Regions from separate parts of the Homo sapiens genome. Here region 2 is linked to region 1. The links come from fine-mapping of genetic effects on gene expression. Tissue or cell type: whole blood. Region 1 holds a variant in brackets; the other region holds the start of a gene. All regions are shown on one strand. Distances are from middle to middle.

Evidence for each region. PIP is the estimated chance that this variant, and not a neighbour inherited with it, causes the effect.
Region 2: it holds the start of COX5B, and the variant in region 1 is fine-mapped to the expression of COX5B in whole blood (INTERVAL, PIP above 0.99).

What each region holds. Positions count from the first base shown.
Region 1 is chr2:97,810,036-97,815,183 of GRCh38, forward strand. It overlaps TMEM131 (transmembrane protein 131), which reads right to left. Exons shown (of 41, transcript NM_015348.2): 14 at 4,200-4,353; 15 at 3,936-4,106; 16 at 2,604-2,714; 17 at 2,386-2,520; 18 at 1,093-1,197. Among named protein-coding and RNA genes, the nearest start is that of ZAP70, 99 kb to the left of the region's middle. The variant G/A (reference allele first, on the strand shown) is at 2,363.
Region 2 is chr2:97,643,192-97,648,339 of GRCh38, forward strand. It overlaps COX5B (cytochrome c oxidase subunit 5B), which reads left to right and starts at 2,871. Exons shown (of 4, transcript NM_001862.3): 1 at 2,871-2,998; 2 at 3,876-3,949; 3 at 4,153-4,252; 4 at 4,805-5,148. The coding sequence starts at 2,896. The coding sequence ends at 4,917. RefSeq lists enhancers at 1,829-2,763, 2,566-2,615, 2,796-2,975.

The sequences.
Region 1 (5,148 bases):
AATGAAGACAGATTTTTTAAAAATACAAATATTTTTGTATTTCAAAATACAAATAATCTATAAAAATAGATTATTTTAAAAAAGAAAGTCAAACTGTACTCCTAAAACAATGTATGTAAAATCCAGCATATCTAGAGTTATATAGCTTTTTTTTTGATACAGAAATAGACATCAACCTAATTTTTAAAAATGCACTGAACATTCTAGAGTTAGAATCCCATCCCATACTGTTAGTAACTCTCAAAGCTACTTCTCTAGGGTATTTTTCTTAATTCTTATTTTCACCCATATTAACAAAAATTTATCTGAATTCTGAAATGTACTTATTTCTGTCATGAGTGATAACCATGAATTCCTCACCTGACATACTCTCAACAAATCATTTATTATTAAATGGCCAATTCTGTTTATTTTATAATTACATTTTTTTTCCACGTGGGAGTTGTGTCCACTGAAAACATCTATGAGGGCAAAGGTGGTAAGTTGTTGAATTTAACAGTGCTTGACTTTCCTAAGAGCTTTTAGATATACAATTAAAAACATTTAGGTCTGGCAGAAATACATCCATTCAAAATCTTACTGAATGCAAAATAAGCTCCACACAGAATATTTTAATTAAAAGCTTAGTAACCTTTAGTCCCTTGACTTTGAATGACTCATGAAAATATAAATGTGAGCACTCAGATTAGGACATGATCTCCTGATTTTATCTTCCTTTTCAGAAATGTTAGACCCTGACTGCTATTTATGATTGTAGGAACAATCAGAGGTATCTAACTCAGGACACTCAGCTGGGGTCTGTGCAATGATATAACCATCTGTTTAAGCAGGTTTCTAACAAAGCAATTCTAAACGTGCTAAAGGCATTCTTCTGAAGTTGCTTTTTAGGTTAGGAGGGTTGGGTTTTATCAAAAAACTATGAGCCTATGAACATCAATATTCTATAAACTATTCTCGAAAGCTCAGTTTTTAAGGTATGAAACTGGTAAACTGTAACTCTGAGTAAACTTAATTCTTTGGTTTCATAAAGACAAGAAAGGACTGACTTATTCAGAAAAACCCCACTGCCATGAATCCCCATAAAGTCCTTACCTCATAGTCTGTTGTGATCTGGATGGCTCCATCATGAATCCCCTCTAATTTTTTTGCAGTAAGTTTGACTCTGAAGACTGCAAAATAGCCTGAAGCTAATGTTACCTGTAGATAGTAGAAATGGTATCATTCATTAGCCTTGTTAGTTGAAGTTTCCTATTAAAATGGACATGAAGGGTGTAGCGATAAAATGACTAACAAATCCTAACATATACCAGTATGACACTGAATTACCATATCACTGTGTACAAATATCTCAAAATAGTGTCCATCCCTTGATATTTCTCTACTACACTTGTTCCATGGGCCACTGAAAAAGCTGGTTCCTGAAAGAGGGAGGGGTGTGGTCCTCTTGCTAATAAAGCTCCTCACTCTTTACCCATGGACCTGTATGGCCAAAGGGGCTGGAGCAGAGGGACACAGCCTTCCACCAACCTTTCAGGCACACTGGAGCCACAATTGTATACACAGCTGGCTCTGCTTCAAGCTGTGGATGTCACTCTGTAATGTTAATATTCATATCTTCAGGGCAGCTGAGGTCAGATATAACAAAACACCAGACCTATGGCATTCCACGGAAACGTGTTTGTCAACACTCTCTGTGTATAAGGACACTTGCTTTTCCTTTTGTAAAACTGCCCCAAGAAATTCTATTCTAACCTGCAGATGAGATTATCTGATGCTCCTTCTCACAGATTGTGATTCTAATTCTTTTCCCAGTAGGTATAAACTCCAAGTTCCCCTTTCAGTACTGGTGAGTGCTGAAACTAATAAATTTGTTTTCTCTTGTTTAGCGCTCTCTGACAACCAACTGTAACATGTTTATTAGACAGGTAAAAATATGTGGGCAGACTCACAGTGATCAAACAATGTTTGCCTCACTGATACTGAGGCAGTATCTGGACAGACGTATTATTGCATAATTGAAAATATTTTCTACCAATGTTCAGGGCCATCTCTTTTTCCCAGTAAACTCAATGAACACAAGGTTAGTTTAGTACCCATGGGAATCTCTCCTGTAATGACACTTGTGTTACAAAAAGATAATTAAAAATTTGTGTGTTATAGAACTTTTTATGACAAGGCAGAATTAAACCCCTTTGGGTTTCAGTGCCCTCATCATAAAAATAGGGGGTTGAATTACATTACCTATAAGGTCCTTTTAATAGCAAGTAACCAACACTATTATGAACTGCATAAAAATAATAGTGATACATGTAGCATAGCAATGATCTTCCACTTGCAGTTTAGACATCCATCTTACTTTAAG[G/A]AGACAATAGAAAGTTTACTTACCGATGATTGATCTGATAAAGAGGATTTTTCAAACTCTGGCAGGCTTGAAATTATTGTAGTTCTATTGCCTCTTTCCACAGCTACAAGTTCTATTGATAAACCGTCTCCTATGATATGCCAACTTTTTATAGCCAACTTTAAAAAAAGATATGAAAATGATTATCACAACACAAGCATAAAATCCTTAAATGTGATTTAGAATAAAAACAGGTTTTTACCTCAATTGGATTGCTGTTTATAATTGCAAATAAAATATTACTTGCTTCTGTAGCACTCAGTACTCCAAAATCTATGAAACGTTCCTCTATTTTGGGGGGCAATACAAAGTACTGGAAAGATATAAAAGAACCAGATTAAAAAAAAGTCACATTGATCTAACAATATTATGAAGAGAAAGTAACTATATTAAAGATGTATTAAAGTTCCCCCCAAAATTAGCTGGGCATGGTGGTGTGCACCTATAATCCCAGCTACTCGGAAGGCTGAGCTCAGGCAGGAGAATCGCTTGAACCCGCAAGCCAAGATTGCACCACTGCACTCCAGCTTGGGAAACACAGCGAGACTCCATCTAAAAAAAAAAAAAATTACAGTTCTATGCTTTCCTATGCTTTTGTATATATGCATAAAACCACACATTTATACGACATAGTTGAGGGCTTTGTATGACGAAAGTCTTTTGAGTAATCAGAAATGAAAACAGCCATGGCTTCTGCTGAGTTGCTATTCTTCCTCTGAGGGCACATGAAAGAGGCAGGAAGCTAAACTACTAAGAGAGGTTTAGTGGAACCCTAGGGGATCGGGCAAAAAGCATGTGGTCTCAGCAAGCATCACCAATGATCACTGAAACAAAATAACTGAAGCAGGAGCGAGACATTACTGAAGGTCCCTCCAGCTCTAAAATTCTAATCGATGCCAACTATTTAAAGGGCTACATTTCTAGATGTCCTAGCTTTCTTTTTATCTTTCCTAACAGTTTTCTCTCTTATCTAAGCTTCTTTCATTGATCACTCTCAAGATAGCTTTGTTTGGAATTTTTCCCCCTGCTTATTTTCTGTACCAGGAGTACCTTCATTGTTTCCTTCTGTGTCATATATAATCTTCCAACTTTGCGTCTTTACTACCTTATTTTCTTCTTTACTATCTGATTCTCTTCTTTGTCCCGATATTTCTTGGTTTTGATCATCTCTTCCCTACGTATATCCCTCTTCACCTTCCTTGTATTATTCTTTTTCTACCTATCATTTTTCTATTTAGTTCTTTTCTATATTCCCCATTATTACAATAGTTTAAAAGCATATCCAAGAGAAAGCAGAATGTGGAAAAGATCTAAGTAGAGACTGTAACTAGAGAAGTCAACTGTATCACAAGAGAGAGCTGCCAGAAAAGGTAAAAACTAGTTACCTGGAAAGGTAAAAACTGACTAGGAGAATTAGATCAATTTGCAGAGCACAAATAATGGCAAACCGTATGTAACACGACTGCCTAATAAGATCTGAAAACATTAAAGGTGGGCAGGGAGTTTAAATGTTAAAGATGGATAATATACTTACATCTAAAAAGCCTGTGTATACCCGCACGGGTAAATGAAATTTAGAAGCATTGGTAATAAGTAAAATGTTGTTATCAATGTGCATGGATGATGTGGAAGGCATAAAAAGCAGGGTAAAAATGTATCCTGATTCATTAGGAAGAATTAAGACTGGTTTGCTGAAGTTGTGAACCTGAGAAATGACAGAAGAGAAAAAAAACAAAGTGTCAGCATCACCTAGTTGGTAGACCAGGAAAATTAAAAGTATGAGGGCTCCTGGACATACTTTAAACATTGTTTTGGCTTCTTCTGGTAGCAACACATCGTGAATGAGGATCGCAAAACTGAAAGTGTTAGTAAGGTAAATTGGCCTTTCCACAGGATCAGCAGGGCTGTCTCGGATGTGAAATAATGTTGCAGCATGATCAAATCCCAAATAACTATTAAAAAAAACAACAAGAACAAAATAAATCATTTTTATTTCCATGTGTTAATTTAAAATCCAAGTTCTTCTGTTGTAAGTAATAATTTACATTTAGCATTAGGGATTGTATTAAAGATTTAGAACTATAATATTTTAGTGATTGACTATATGATTTAAAACAAAATTTAGCTTGCAAAATACTGAAATTAATACAAACAACCATTCTCTAATGAATTATATGAATCATACAATTAGAATCAAAGACATATCAACAAAAAAAGCTTTACTTTGAAAAAAATCATGCTTATCACTGAATTACAAGGAGCTTTGCTAAAATGAATCTTTGCCAAGTTGAGTATTAAACTACTATTGGTTAAAGTACAATAGAAAATGAACATGTCACTTCCCATTTATAAAAAGTTGTAATTCTAGAAGTGTTTATGAATTTATAAAGGAATATAAAGAATTCTGTTTCGAGTGTCAAAATACTTTAATAATAGGCCACAATCACTTACATATTACAAACAAATGTCAGAAAGGAAATGGTTCAAATGATTTAAATAATATTTAAAAAATCAGATTTTTGAATCATTAAGTCTTCATTTAAGCCCAAATCCTATCATCCCACTTACCCTTTTCTTCTAAAAAAGTAAAATATAAACAAAATATAGGAGGTTTTCTCTTTTATAGTTGGGGCTGTTCTTTCAAAAAATAATTCCATCAAGTTTATGTGAACGTGGCTAGTATTTCTGCAGGTCATTTAGCAGGAAAATATAATTTACTGATTAGTAAAAAGTAATAGAATTTATTT
Region 2 (5,148 bases), 170 kb before region 1:
GCCTTTGGAATATTCATCATGGGAGAATGGCTGGGCACATTAACGTACATTCACAGTAGGGAATATTCTGCAGCCATCACGTAAGTTAAGATCTAGATGTATTGATCTGAAGGGACATCTACAAAATATATATATTTTTTGAGCCGGAGTCTTGCTCTGTCGCCCAGGCTGGAGTGCAATGATGTGATCTTGGCTCACTGCAACCTCTGCCTCCCGGGTGCAAGTGATTCTCCTGCCTCGGTCTCCCACGTAGCTGGGATTACAGGCGCCCACCACCGCTCCCAGCTAATTTTTGTATTTTTAGTAGAGACAGGGTTTCGCCATGTCGGCCAAGCTGGTTTTGAACTCCTGACCTCAGGTGATCTGCCTGCCTCAGCCTCCCAAAGTGCTAGGATTACAGGTGTGAGCCACCGCACCCAGCCTACAAAATATTTTTTAATGAAAGAAGCAACTAACTAAAACTTTGTATAGTAGTTATGTTTTTATATTTTATATTCATATATGCAGTGATGCTCAATGGGAATTTTGCAAATCCAGGGGGCATGTGGCAATGGCTGAAGATATTTTTGGTTATCATGTCAGGGAGGTGCTAATGACATAGGGTTAAATCCTACAATGCACAACCTCCCTCAAAGAATTATCAACCCAAGATGTCAGTTGTGCTGAGCTTGAGAAACTCTGTCATAGGGAAAGGAAAAAAAGGATAAGCACCAAACTGCTAGCTTGTTCCTTATATATCTGTGCTGTTCAACTTATAATGTACATTTATTTTGACAACTGAAAATTATCCTATAAAAATAAGTTTATTGTGCTGGCAAAGACAATGATAGAGCAGAGGTGGCAGACTGTTCCCCAAGCCAACTGTTTCCAAAGGAGACCTGAGGGACTGGGTGTGAGTTGACAGTGGTGGGAGCTGGAAGCAGCAAGGGATGCGGGGACATCTGGGGAGCCTGGACCTGACCTTGGAGCTCACTCACACAATCTAAATAATCCCAGAGTGAGGCTGAGGTTTTCCTGAGTTGGATGAGGGCCTGCGAAAATTTCCTATTATTAGGCAAGCCTACTATGAGAGTGAGAAGCCTAAACTCAATTTCCATTTTATAGCCTGGAGTAAACCACTTCTGGTCAGGCAGCAGGGAATCATAACATATCAGAGCTGAATACCTCACTGGTTTGCTGAGGGGCAAGTTAGTAGGTGTTCCTCAGAAAGGATTTTGTGGTCAATTAAGACAGGGAAACTCTGGCTTAAACTGCAGGTAAATTAAATAAGAGGTCTTTACTGCAAGCCTAATCAGAGCCTTTATTATGCTAGTGTCCATCTCCAAAAGGGTGGTCATCAAATGCAGGCCCTCCCTGTCTTGACCAAGTCCTTTTTCTTGAGATCATGTCTTGAGACTTGGATGCCATGCAATACACTTTGGGAAATACTAACCTAGTTGAACGACAGTTTTACTGATGTAGAAATGGCGGCCCAAAGGATAAAAAGTAGCTGAACTAGCTGGTGGGGCTACTTTCCAGACCAATGCTTTTTTCTCCTGCCTAAGACCTTAACCACAGTTGCAAATTAACTACAGATCCTCAGAATTTTCGCCCAATTCAACTTGGAGGGGTTGCAGTGGAGGTGAGGGAGAAGGGAGTAACAGTGAAGCCATTCAAAGCAAAAACCACCTTTAAAGAAATTTTGGCCTTAGAATACAGGGTTTTTTTTTTTTTTTTTTTAATTGGTGGAGGGGGCACCCAGGAAGACCAGACGTGCTCCTGTGAAGCAACGCTCCACCACGTCCTTTTGAAAATACCGTAGCCTGCATGAGACAGGCGGGAGCACCTAAGCCTTCAACTCTCCCCATGTTGCCTCCAATTGACCTCACTGGGCCAGGAAAAGCCCTATAAACTGGTTTTGTATACTCTATCCAAGTAGTAAATTTACTAAAATTACTGGATCCTACTATATACCAGACCTCTGCAAGGCATTGAAGATTCAATGATGAGCATTAATTCCCACTCTAAGGGGATTTTTCTATCTGGTAGGGAAACTCAGATACCGCATGCAGCTAGCCTGTCACAGGGCTATACTGACTAAAGCTCACCCTAAGAAATTTGCACATCTTAGCCTATGGGCAACGGGAAGCCATGGACGGAATATGTTTTCCGTTTCAAACAAGGAACTCCAGTCACAGCAGGCTCTAACTCCATTTCCTATTATCAACTCCCCTTCCTGCTCCTCCTCCCTTAGTAGCCTCGAAAAAGAGTGGCCACTTCCTTCACATCACCAGGGCCTTGGTCCTGGTAGGGGGTCCCGCCCCCGGCCCTGTCCTCCTCCCCAGGCCGGGACCTCCGCGCCTCCCACACACAGTACAACTCTAACACGAAACTGGGCCAGGACTGCAGGTAGGTCCCGTCCAATGCGACACGCTCGCGACGGCCCACGCACTGCCAGAACCAGCCCTGCCACTAACCAGCCTAGTAAGGAACGCAGTGATCTTTAGGAGCCCACTTCTAAATTCAAATCATTTGGGGTTCAGTAAGTCTCTTCACAGACGGGGACCTAATAGCTTCCATTAGCAGCCTCCACGTTTGCTGAACACGACTACGGGGCCAGACCCACAGGAACTCCAATGTGGTTCAGCCGCTCAACTCCAGGGACCAAAAAGACTTTCCCACCTCCCAGCGTTATTAAAGGCAACCCCGCCCCCAAGCCTCAGCCACTACGCGGTGCAGAAAGAGGCAGAGCTGGGCATGCGCAATTTCCGCCCCCGCCACAGTCTTGGGAGTGGGCGGGCTCGAGGGCTGGGAGGAAGCCGAAAGCTGACCGAGAGGAGAAAGAAGCCCGCCCCCGGAAGTCCCTCCTGTCTCTGCAGCTTGTTCCCGGAAGTTTTGCTGCTAGTCGCGGACGCAATGGCTTCAAGGTTACTTCGCGGAGCTGGAACGCTGGCCGCGCAGGCCCTGAGGGCTCGCGGCCCCAGTGGCGCGGCCGCGATGCGCTCCATGGCATCTGGAGGTACTCGGGTCTCCGGGCGTGCCAGGGACCAGAGTGTTGCCCTCCCAGGGTGGTCCCAGGGCGGCAAAGCGGCGCGGCTCGTGCAGCTTCTCGAGGTCCCAGTGGCCGCTTTACGGTCCCCAGTGCCTCAGGCTCTGCAGGCATCTCCCTGTAATTCTGGACCGCTGCTCCTGCCGCTCCCCGAACTCACTCCGCTGCGAAAGTATCCTAAACGGAGGTGCCGGGTGACCTTGGGAGGGACCGGGGCTGCCACCGGGATGGGGAGGGGTCCGGCCTCCCTTCAAACCTGCGCCCACCTCAAGCAGAGTGGGTTCTACATGCTTTTAGACAAATGTCGACAAATTTGCCTCGGTGGTTGGAGAAAGAAAAGCTCATAGGCCGGGCGCGGTGGCTCACAACTGTAATCCCAGCACTTTGGGAGGCCGAGGCGGACAGATCCCCTGAGGTCAGGAGCTCAAGACCAGCCTGGCCAACATGGTAAAACCCCGTTTCTACTAAAAATACAAAAATTAGCCGGGCGTGGTGGCGCGCGCCTGTAGTCCCAGCTACTCGGGAGGCTGAGGCAGGAGAATCGCTTAAACCCGGGAGGCGGAGGTTCCCGTGAGCCAACATCGCGCCATTGCACTCCAGCCTGGGCAACAAGAGCAAAACTCCGTCTCAAAAAAGAAAAAAAAAGCTCCCCCGAGTGCTGCCGCTTGTGTGGATGGGTACTTGGTGGTTCTTAGGGGACCATGGATATGAGTAGCCTTTAGGAGCTTGTGAGCCCGCTAAAACTTATACAGAAGTTTCGGGGCACCATTTTCCTTGATCATTTCTGTTTGTAGTTTTTCTATCAGTCATTTCAGTCAGCGTCATAATTCACGTTATCTTCCTTTAGGTGGTGTTCCCACTGATGAAGAGCAGGCGACTGGGTTGGAGAGGGAGATCATGCTGGCTGCAAAGAAGGGACTGGTAAGGAGAAACTCCCTTCTGTGTCTTCTGTGTAACTTATGGCCTTGGATGTGTTCATAGTGGTCTCCTCTCTGGGAGTATTTGATACAGGAAACTTGGCTTGTAGGAACAGTCCCCTGAGCTTCTGGAAGGTAGGGCTTATTTGGCCTAATGGTTCAATTCTTGTTTTTTTTGTTTTGTTTTGTTTTTTGTTTTTTCTTCAGGACCCATACAATGTACTGGCCCCAAAGGGAGCTTCAGGCACCAGGGAAGACCCTAATTTAGTCCCCTCCATCTCCAACAAGAGAATAGTAGGCTGCATCTGTAAGTACCTCACCTCTATTTTTTATCCACTTGCTTAATATATCCTACAATAGTGTGTAAGCTGCCTCAAATCTTCAGTGTGTGAGTGCATGTTGGTAAGTTTGTCTAAGGGTCTTGACACTCTCAAGCCTCATTATGCCTGATAGTTCATCCTTACTGGAAAGAAGCGCAGCACAGCGGTAAGACTGGCTCACTGGGAGTGCGGCATGAAGGAGTACCCACCCAGCAAATATTTATTGTTATACTGCTTCTATGCCAGGCATCATTTTAGACACTAGGGATACATACCAGAACGGACCCTGCTTTGCGTTCTACATAGGCAAGGGAATTGTTAGAATTTACAGTGACCTTGATACAAGGTCAGTTTACTCATAGGTGAACTCAGAGCCTCAATTTCTTCATCTGAAGAATGGGAGGAGGGCTTGAACTGATCTCTTAAGATATCAACCATAGTCTTACTTGTGTATCAGAGATGTCTGAGGAAAAGAAATTCATGTTGAAAGTCTCCCTTTCTAGGTTGGATGACCATAAACCACCTTTTTTCCCTTTTAGGTGAAGAGGACAATACCAGCGTCGTCTGGTTTTGGCTGCACAAAGGCGAGGCCCAGCGATGCCCCCGCTGTGGAGCCCATTACAAGCTGGTGCCCCAGCAGCTGGCACACTGAGCACCTGCACTAAATTACTCAAAATGTGCTGTAAAGTTTCTTCTTTCCAGTAAAGACTAGCCATTGCATTGGCTCCTTCTCCCATAGATGGCTGGTCTTATTTCTTACCCGTATTCTTTGGTAGGCATGGAATATGCTTATTTTGGGAAAAGCTGTCTGTTAATGCTAGCTTGCCATCCACTTACTGAAAGTGTATAACCAGTGTATAGTGCTTAGATTAATAATAAGAAT